Linked DNA regions of Homo sapiens. The protein of the gene in region 1 purifies or fractionates together with the protein of each later gene. This does not show direct contact. Each region holds a gene or a part of one and is shown in the gene's direction. Other genes may lie near its edges. The genes, in order: DMAC2 and CELA3A.

Region 1 (4,242 bases):
GCACCGTCAGCCCCTGCCCACCTCTCAACCCAGTCTCCTATCTCTGTCTGCAAGCTGGTTCCCACCTCAAGGCCTCTCTGCTCTAGAGGCTACCTCTCCCTGCAGCGCTTTTCCCCTAGATCTTTGAATGGCTCTTTCCTTATCATTCACTTCTACTTCAATGTCACCTCTTCAGAGAGGCCTTTGCTGATGGCCCTACACCCAGTCACTTTTTTTTATCTGCTTCTCATCAAAATTGCCTTGCTGATTCCTTTGTTTCTTATTCATCCTCTCCCACATCCATCCTCTCCCAGCCCAGAATGTTGACTTCCTGAGAGAGGGACTGGGTCTGTCCTGCTCACCATGGTAACCTCGGCATCTAGAACAGTGCCTGCCATCACGTGGTAGGTGCTCAGTAAATATTCTTGGAACTAATGAATGAATAATTCTATCCACAAGACTTCACAATGGCTCTTCATGCTGCGATCTAGCTTTCAACTCCAAACTGGTCTTGAGATCTCACCTCAGTCTCTAACCTTGACATCTAACCTCTTCACCCACTCTCTTACCTGACCCTAATTTTTAAAAATGACGTGGTCAGCTTTTCAGCCCCCTCATTCCCTGTTTTTAGGAGGTAGTGAGTGGAAGCTGGAAGAATAAGAAAGCTTGGGGAGACTGCAATTGCAGTCAGGAAAGAAAGGTACTCTGCCGGGAAGAACACCCCATCTTCTCCTAGGGAAAGATTGTGGAGTCCTGGGGTTTGTTTTGTTTTTCAATTTTTTGTTTTAAGAGACAGCGTCTCGCTCTGTCACCCAGGCTGGAGTGCAGTGGCGCAATCACAGCTCACTGCAACTTCGACCTCCCCGGCTCAAGTGATCCCCCCGCCTCAGCCTCGTGAGTAGCTGGGACCACAGGCGTGCACCACCACGCCCGGCTAACATTTTATTTTTTGTGGATATAAGGTTGCCCTATTTCTTTGTGGAGATAAAGGCTCCCCTATGTTGCCCAGGCTGGTCTCGAACTCCTGGCTTCAAGCGATGCTTTCGCCTCGGCCTCCACAAAGTGCTGGGTTCACAGGTGCGTGAGCCCGACCTGTGTCTCGTTTTGAAGCTCAGGGAGAGGGCGCTGTGAGCAATCCCTAAACCCTTTAAGAGTAAAAAGTGCGTGCACCTTTAAGAGGACGGTTAGAAAACGCGGGGCGTGGCCACAGGAGAATAAGTTCGCGCTGAACCAGGAGCGTGGGATAAGACCGGCCCCTTCCGGTTACGAAACCTTAGCAAGATGGCGGCTCCCTGGGCGGTAAGTGACCGGAGTTCCTAGAGCCCCAAATTTGAAGTCCGCTCTACAGCCTCCGCATTCAGGGCCTCTGTTGGCGGCCACGAGAGCAGAAAGCCGTGAGGCAGCAGGCTAAGCCTGGCAAGCCCCGTACTGGGAGTGCAAACCTGTGGCTAGTGGGGGCCAGGAAGGATCTGTGAGGGTCGCAGGCGGAGGAGACGCTTTAGCGAGCGAGAGGAGGCAGGGACTTGGCTGAGAGTATCCAATGGGGATGAGGGAGTGGCTGCCGAAGAGCGACGCGACTAACCAATCAGAGGGAGGGATGACACAAGGAGCTAATGGACAGGCAAGGGTGGGGCCTGTAGGATAAGAGAGCTTGGAAGGGATTGTTCGAGGATGTGGGATTTGGTCTTAGAAGACCGAAGGATGAATGTAAGGAAAGTTAGTGGGAGATTGACGAATTTTTACAGAAAACTCAAAAGCATGATGGGTGGGGGAACCAAGAGGTCAATTTGGAGGTTCTAAGGGCATGATCTGGGTGAAATTAAGAGGAGAATTTGAGATATTCTTTCAGAGGATTTAAAATCAAGGAATGAATTTAGGGAAAATTAAAGAGGTTGGCAGCTTTAAACTTTTGAGGAAAATAAGGGTTTGGGTAAAATTATCGAGATAATTTGAAAAAAAAAAAGAATTTGGTTAAAGCAAAGAGAAATTGGGGTAGATTAAGAGGAGACCTTGAAAGCAAAATTGAAGAGTTTGGGGGCTTCTTCCCATTGGCCACACCCCTCGACTTTCTTACTCTCCTCTTCAAAGCTCATGCTTTTTATACCCTTCTCGGTTCAGGGGTGTCCAATCTTTTGGCTTCCCTGGGCCACGCTGTTCGAAGAAGAAGAATTGTCTTGGGCCACACATAAAATACACTAACCATAACTGATGAGCCAAAAAAAAAAAAAAAAAAATCACAAAAATATCCTCCTAATGTTTTAAGAAAGTTTGCATGTTTGTGTTGGGCTGCATGCAGGCGGCGGGTTGGACAAGCTTGGTTGGTTTTAGGGATTGCTCAGAGCACCCTCTCCTTGAGGTTTGGAGATAAGTTTTTAAGATTATATTCTGGGGAAAGAAAGAAGTCATTTGGGAAGACCCCAGCAGAAGAATTGGGTAATTAAGGGGCAAATCTGTGGAAAATTAAGAGGTCAAATAATGCAGGTTTTGAGTGATAAGGGTTTGGGGGAAAGTTAGAGGAAGAATTTAGGAAAATCAACAATATATGGCTAGTCGAGAAAATTTAGGGTTCACTAAGGGGAGGAGGAACTTGGAAAAAACATGGGGAAATTTTTGGAATCTCAAAGACAGTTTTGAAGTTTTGAAGGAAGAACTTAGGGTGAGTTGGGAAGCAGAGGGATTGAGGTTCATGGAGCAAGAACTGGGGGATCCAGCTCTGTGTCTCCCAGGAGGCTCCAGGCTCAGCTCCTTTCCTCTCCCCCTCCCCAGTCCCTGCGCCTGGTCGCCCCCATGTGGAATGGGCGTATCAGGGGCATCCATCGCCTGGGTGCGGCAGTGGCCCCAGAGGGCAATCAGAAGAAGAAAAGGACAATACTCCAGTTCCTGACCAACTATTTCTACGATGTGGAGGCTCTGAGGGATTACTTGCTCCAAAGGGAGATGTACAAGGTGCATGAGAAAAATCGGTGAGAATCCCTGGTCTGCAAGACCCTGTGGAGACCCTGGCCCACCAGAGCCCAGGTCCTGTCCTTGCCATTCCCAGGCAGCACTGTGGCTTCCAGTGCCAGCCTTGATGTCTCTTGCAGCTCCATCTCCAGGCTGTACCCTTCTCAAGGACTCCAGCTCACATAGGCAGTTTGCCACCCACCAGCTCCACTCAGAGTCTAACTGGCATCTCAAACCTAACATGGCTAAAGCCAAACCCTGATTTCTCCCCTAAAAACATCTGCTCACTCCCAAGCCTTCCCATCCCAGTAAACACTGGTGCTGCCCACCCAGTTGTTCAGGCCAAATTCTAAGGAGTCATCCCTAATTCCTCTCTTTGCTTCCCTGCCCTCCACATCCAGACCATCAATAAAATACTAGAATATCTCAGATTTGACCAGTTCTCACTGCCTTCACCATTCGTAGCCTGATCCCTTATAGTTGAATCACTCAATAAGCTAACTGGGTTTTTGTTCCCATACTCTTTTTTTTTTTTTTCTGAGATGGAGTCTTGCTCTGTCTCCCAGCCTGGAGTGTAGTGGCGCAATCTAAGCTCACTGCAACCTCCACCTCCCAGGTTCAAGCAATTCTCCTGCCTCCGCCTCCCAAGTAGCTGGGATTACAGGCGCCCGCCACCAGGCCCAGCTAATTTTTGTATTTTTAGTAGAGATGGGTTTTCACCATGTTAGCGAGGCTGCTCTCGAACTCCTGACCTCAGGTGATCCGCCTGCCTCGGTCTCCCAGAGTGCTGGGATTACAGGCATGAGCCACCACACCCCGCCAAAATTTGTTTTGTTTTGTTTGAGACAGAGTCTCACTCTGTCGCACATGCTGGAGTACAGTGGTGTGATCATGGCTCATTGCAATCTCCACCTCCTGGGTTCAAGCGATTCTCCCGCCTCAGCCTCCCAAGTAGGTGAGATTACAGGCAGGCGCCACCACACCTAATTTTTCTATTTTTAGTAGAGATGGGGTTTCACCATGTTGGCCAGGCTGGTCTCGAAATCCTGACCTCAGATGATCCACCTGCCTCGGCCTTCCAAAGTGCTGGGATTACAGGCGTGAGCCACCACACCTGGCCTGTCCCATAGTTTTTTATAATCTACAAAGCAGCTGAAGGAATCTTATCATCACCAGCTCAAAACCTTCAAATAAGAGCCAATCTCCAAGGCCTAAAACATAGCTCCTACTGAGCTTTGAGACCCCCTATCAGGACTCCACTGGCCCCTTCAGCATGACATCCCTATTTCTTATTTATTCAACCATCCTAATTCAAGTCTC
Region 2 (3,810 bases), on another chromosome or scaffold:
GTGCTTTGGGAGGCTGAGGTGGGAGGATTGCTTGAGGCTAGGAGTTTGAGACCAGCCTAGGTAATATAGTGAGATGCCCATCTACAGAAAAACTTTTTTTACTTAGTCAGGCATGGTGGCACTCGCCTGTAGTCCCAACTACTTGATAGGCTGAGGTGGGAGGATTGTTTGAGCCTGGGAGTTCAAGCTCACAGTGGCTATGATTTTTGCCACTGCACCCAAGCCTGGCGACACAGCAAGACGTTGTCTCTTTTTTTTTTTTTTTTGAGACAGGATCTTGCTCTGTTGCCCAGGCTGGAGTGCAGTAATGCCATCATAGCCCACTGTAGCCTTGCCCTCCTGGGCTCAAGCAACCCTCCAATGTCAGCCTCCCAAGCAGCCAGGAGTACAAGTGTGTGCCACAATGCCTAGCTAATTTTTAAATTTTTTGTAGAGATGAGGTCTCACCATGTTGCCCAGGCTGGTCTCTAACTCTTGGGCTCAAGTAATCCTCCTGCCTTGGCCTTCCAAAGTGTTATGTTTACAGATGTGAGCCACTTTCCTGGCCAAGACCTTGTCTAAGAAAAAAAAACAAAGGCTGGGCGCGGTGGCTCACGCCTGTAATCCCAGCACTTTGGGAGGCCGAGCCGGGCGGATCACGAGGTCAGGAGATCGAGATCATCCTGGCTAACATGGTGAAACCTCGTCTCTACTAAACACACAAAAAGTTAGCCGGGTGTGGTGGTGGGCGCCTGTAGTCCCAGCTACTCGGGAGGCTGAGGCAGGAGAATGGTGTGAACCCAGGAGTTGGAGCTTGCCGTGAGCCGAGATCGCGCCACTGCACTCCAACCTGGGTGACAGAGCGAGACGCTGACTCAGAAAAAAAAAAAATACTATCAAATACCCTCATTGTATTGTAATTGAGTATGAATTAATAATTAACTATGGTGCCACTAATAAGAACTATGTTTATCGAGTGCTTCTTCTCTACTGGATATCGTGCTAAGATCGTGCATCATCTCATGTAATTCCCTAGGCTCTTGGACAGATACTACTATTCCCTATCACAAATGAGTCAGCTGGCTGGGCGTGGTGGCTCACACCTATAATCCCTTTGGGAGGCCCCGGCAGGTGGATCACCTGAGGTCAGGACTTTGAGACTAACCTGGCCAACATGGTGAAATCCCATCTCTATTAAATATGGCTGGGTGCAGTGACTCACGCCTGTAATCCCAGCACTTCGGGAGGCTGAGGCGGGCGGATCACGTGGTCAGGAGATCGAGACCATCCTGGCTAACACGGTGAAACCCCGTCTCTACGAAAAATACAAAAATTAGCCGGGCGTGGTAGTGGGCACCTATAGTCCCAGCTACTTGGGAGGCTGAGGCAGGAGAATGGCGTGAACCCTGGAGGCAGAGCTTGCAGTGAGCTGAGATCCTGCCACTGTACTCCAGCCTGGGCGTCAGAGTGAGACTTCGTCTCTAATAAAAAATAAATAAATAAATAAACAAAAATTAGCCGGGTGTGGTGGCAGGTGCCTGTAATCCCAGCTACTTGGGAGGCTGAAGCAGGAGAATCACTTGAACCTGGGAGCCGGGAGACGGAGGTTGCAATGAGCCAAGCTTGCGCCACTGCACTCCAGCCTGGACAGCAGAGCGAGACTCCATCTAAAAAAATAAAAATAATAAATGATAAAAAAATGAGCGAGCTAAGGCTCAGAGGTGTCAAGTAATGTCAGAGTTTCTTGAAATCCCTAGAATTCAGAACCAGTTCCGTAAACCTCAGACATGGCTCAGCCACCCACTCCTCTCTGACGGTTCCAGGGTGACTCTGGAGGACCCCTCAACTGCCCCACAGAGGATGGTGGCTGGCAGGTCCACGGTGTGACCAGCTTTGTTTCTGCCTTTGGCTGCAACTTCATCTGGAAGCCCACGGTGTTCACTCGAGTCTCCGCCTTCATCGACTGGATTGAGGAGGTGAGGAGGGCAGGGCGGCCCGGAGGGCTTTAGGGTGGTGGCTCTTCTGAGAGGTGACAGGTGAGAAACATCGGATCCTGGGGAGGGCCTGAAAGGATCCTAGAAGCTCAGTGGGGAAGGGCCCTTGGGGACATTCCAGAAAGGCTTGGGGATGTTTTCTGATACAGTGTGACCCCAGGAACTTGATGGCTTCTGGGTGGTGCTTGGAACTACAGCTGAACTTCCTTATTTCAACAAGTATTTATAAAGTATCTCCTCTGGTCTTGTCCTCTCTTGTCAGGGAGGATAGAGAGACATGCCAGACAAGAGGCTGCCTGGTGGGGGACAGGTGATTACATGAATGAGAACGATGCAGTCTGATGAGAGCCGAGAGAGGGGAGTCCAGGCCCCAGACTTCATCTGGGGATGGGTGATCAGAGAGGACTAATAACGCTCATGGTAACAGTAATAGCTAAACAACAAAAAAAAAGAGAGTAATAGCTGGGCATGGCATAGTCATGCCTGTAATCCCAGCACTTTGGGAAGCAGAGGCAGGTGGATCACGAGGTTAGGAGTTCAAGACCAGCCTGGCCAAGATGGTGAAACCCTGTCTCTACTAAAAATACAAAAATTAGCCGGGCATGGTGGTGGGTGCCTGTAATCCCAGCTGCTTGGGAGGCTCAGGCAGAGAATTGCTTGAACCTGGGAGGTGGAGGTTGCAGTTAGTCGAGATCATACCACTGCACTGCAGCCTGGGTGACAGAGCGAGACTCCGTCTCAAAAAAAAAAAAAAAAAAAAAAGAGTAATAGCTAGCTGGGTGCAGTGATGCCCACCTGTAGTCCCAGCTACTTGGGAGGCTGAGGCAGGAGGATCGGTTGAGCCCTGGAGTTCTGGGCCATAGTGCGCTATACCCATCAGGTTCTGCACCAAGTTTGGCATCAATGTGGTGACCTCCTGGGAGTGGGGACCACCAGGTGGCCTAAGGAGGGGTGAACTGTCCCAGGTCAGAAACAGAGCAGGTCAAAACTCACATGCTGAAAAGTAGTAGGATCACACCTGTGAATAGCCACTGTACTCCAGCCTGGGCAACACAGCAAGAGCCTCTCTCTTAAAAAAATGAAAATAAACTAAATAAAATAAAACAGTAGTGCTTGCTTTGGCAGCACATGTACTAAAATTGGAATGATATAGAGATTAGCACGGCCCCTGCGCAAGGATGACATGCAAAGTCATGAAGCCTTCCAATAAAAAAACATTTCTGGTCGAGTGCAGTGGTTCATGCCTGTAATCCCAGCACTCTGGGAGGCCAAGGCCCATGGATCACCTGAGGTCAGGAGTTCAAGACCAGCCTGGCCGACATGGTGAAACCCCATCTCTACTAAGAATACAAAAAATTAGCCGGGCGTATTGGTGCATGCCTGTGGTCCCAGCTACTCAGGAGGCTGAGGCAGGAGAACTGCTTGAATCTGGGAGGCGGAGGTTGCAGTGAGCCGAGATTACGCCACTGCACTCCAGCCTGGGTGACAGAGCAAGACTCCATCTCAAAAACAAAAACAAACAAACAAACAAAAAAACAGTGATGATTTATAGACCATTTAATCCCTTGGTTCCCTGACCCATGTTAAAAAAATATATATATAAGGCCAGGCACGGTGGCTCATGCCTGTAATCCAAGCACTTTGGTAGGCCAAGGCAGGTGGATCACAAGGTCAGGAGTTCGAGACCAGCCTGGCCAATATGGTGAAACCCTGTCTCTACAAAAATATAAAAAAATTGGCCAGGCGTGGTAGTGCGTCGCTGTAATCTCAGCTACTTGGGAGGTTGAGGCAGAAGAATTGCTCGAACTCAGGAGGCAGAGGTTGCAGTAAGCTGAGA

The links.
Region 2: the proteins of DMAC2 (region 1) and CELA3A purify together in Homo sapiens (co-immunoprecipitation; one large-scale study listed by IntAct). This does not show direct contact.

Annotation. Positions count from the first base shown.
Region 1 is NC_000019.10:41,436,918-41,441,159, reverse strand, and holds the start of DMAC2 (distal membrane-arm assembly complex protein 2), read left to right. Parts: upstream 1-1,247; 5' UTR 1,248-1,260; coding exon 1,261-1,278; intron 1,279-1,622; exon of another isoform or gene 1,623-1,650; coding exon of another isoform or gene 1,651-1,686; intron 1,687-2,745; coding exon 2,746-2,942; intron 2,943-4,242. UniProt on the Homo sapiens protein: Required for the assembly of the mitochondrial NADH:ubiquinone oxidoreductase complex (complex I). Involved in the assembly of the distal region of complex I.
Region 2 is NC_000001.11:22,007,903-22,011,712, forward strand, and holds part of CELA3A (chymotrypsin-like elastase family member 3A preproprotein), read left to right. Parts: intron 1-1,802; coding exon 1,803-1,955; intron 1,956-3,810. UniProt on the Homo sapiens protein: Efficient protease with alanine specificity but only little elastolytic activity.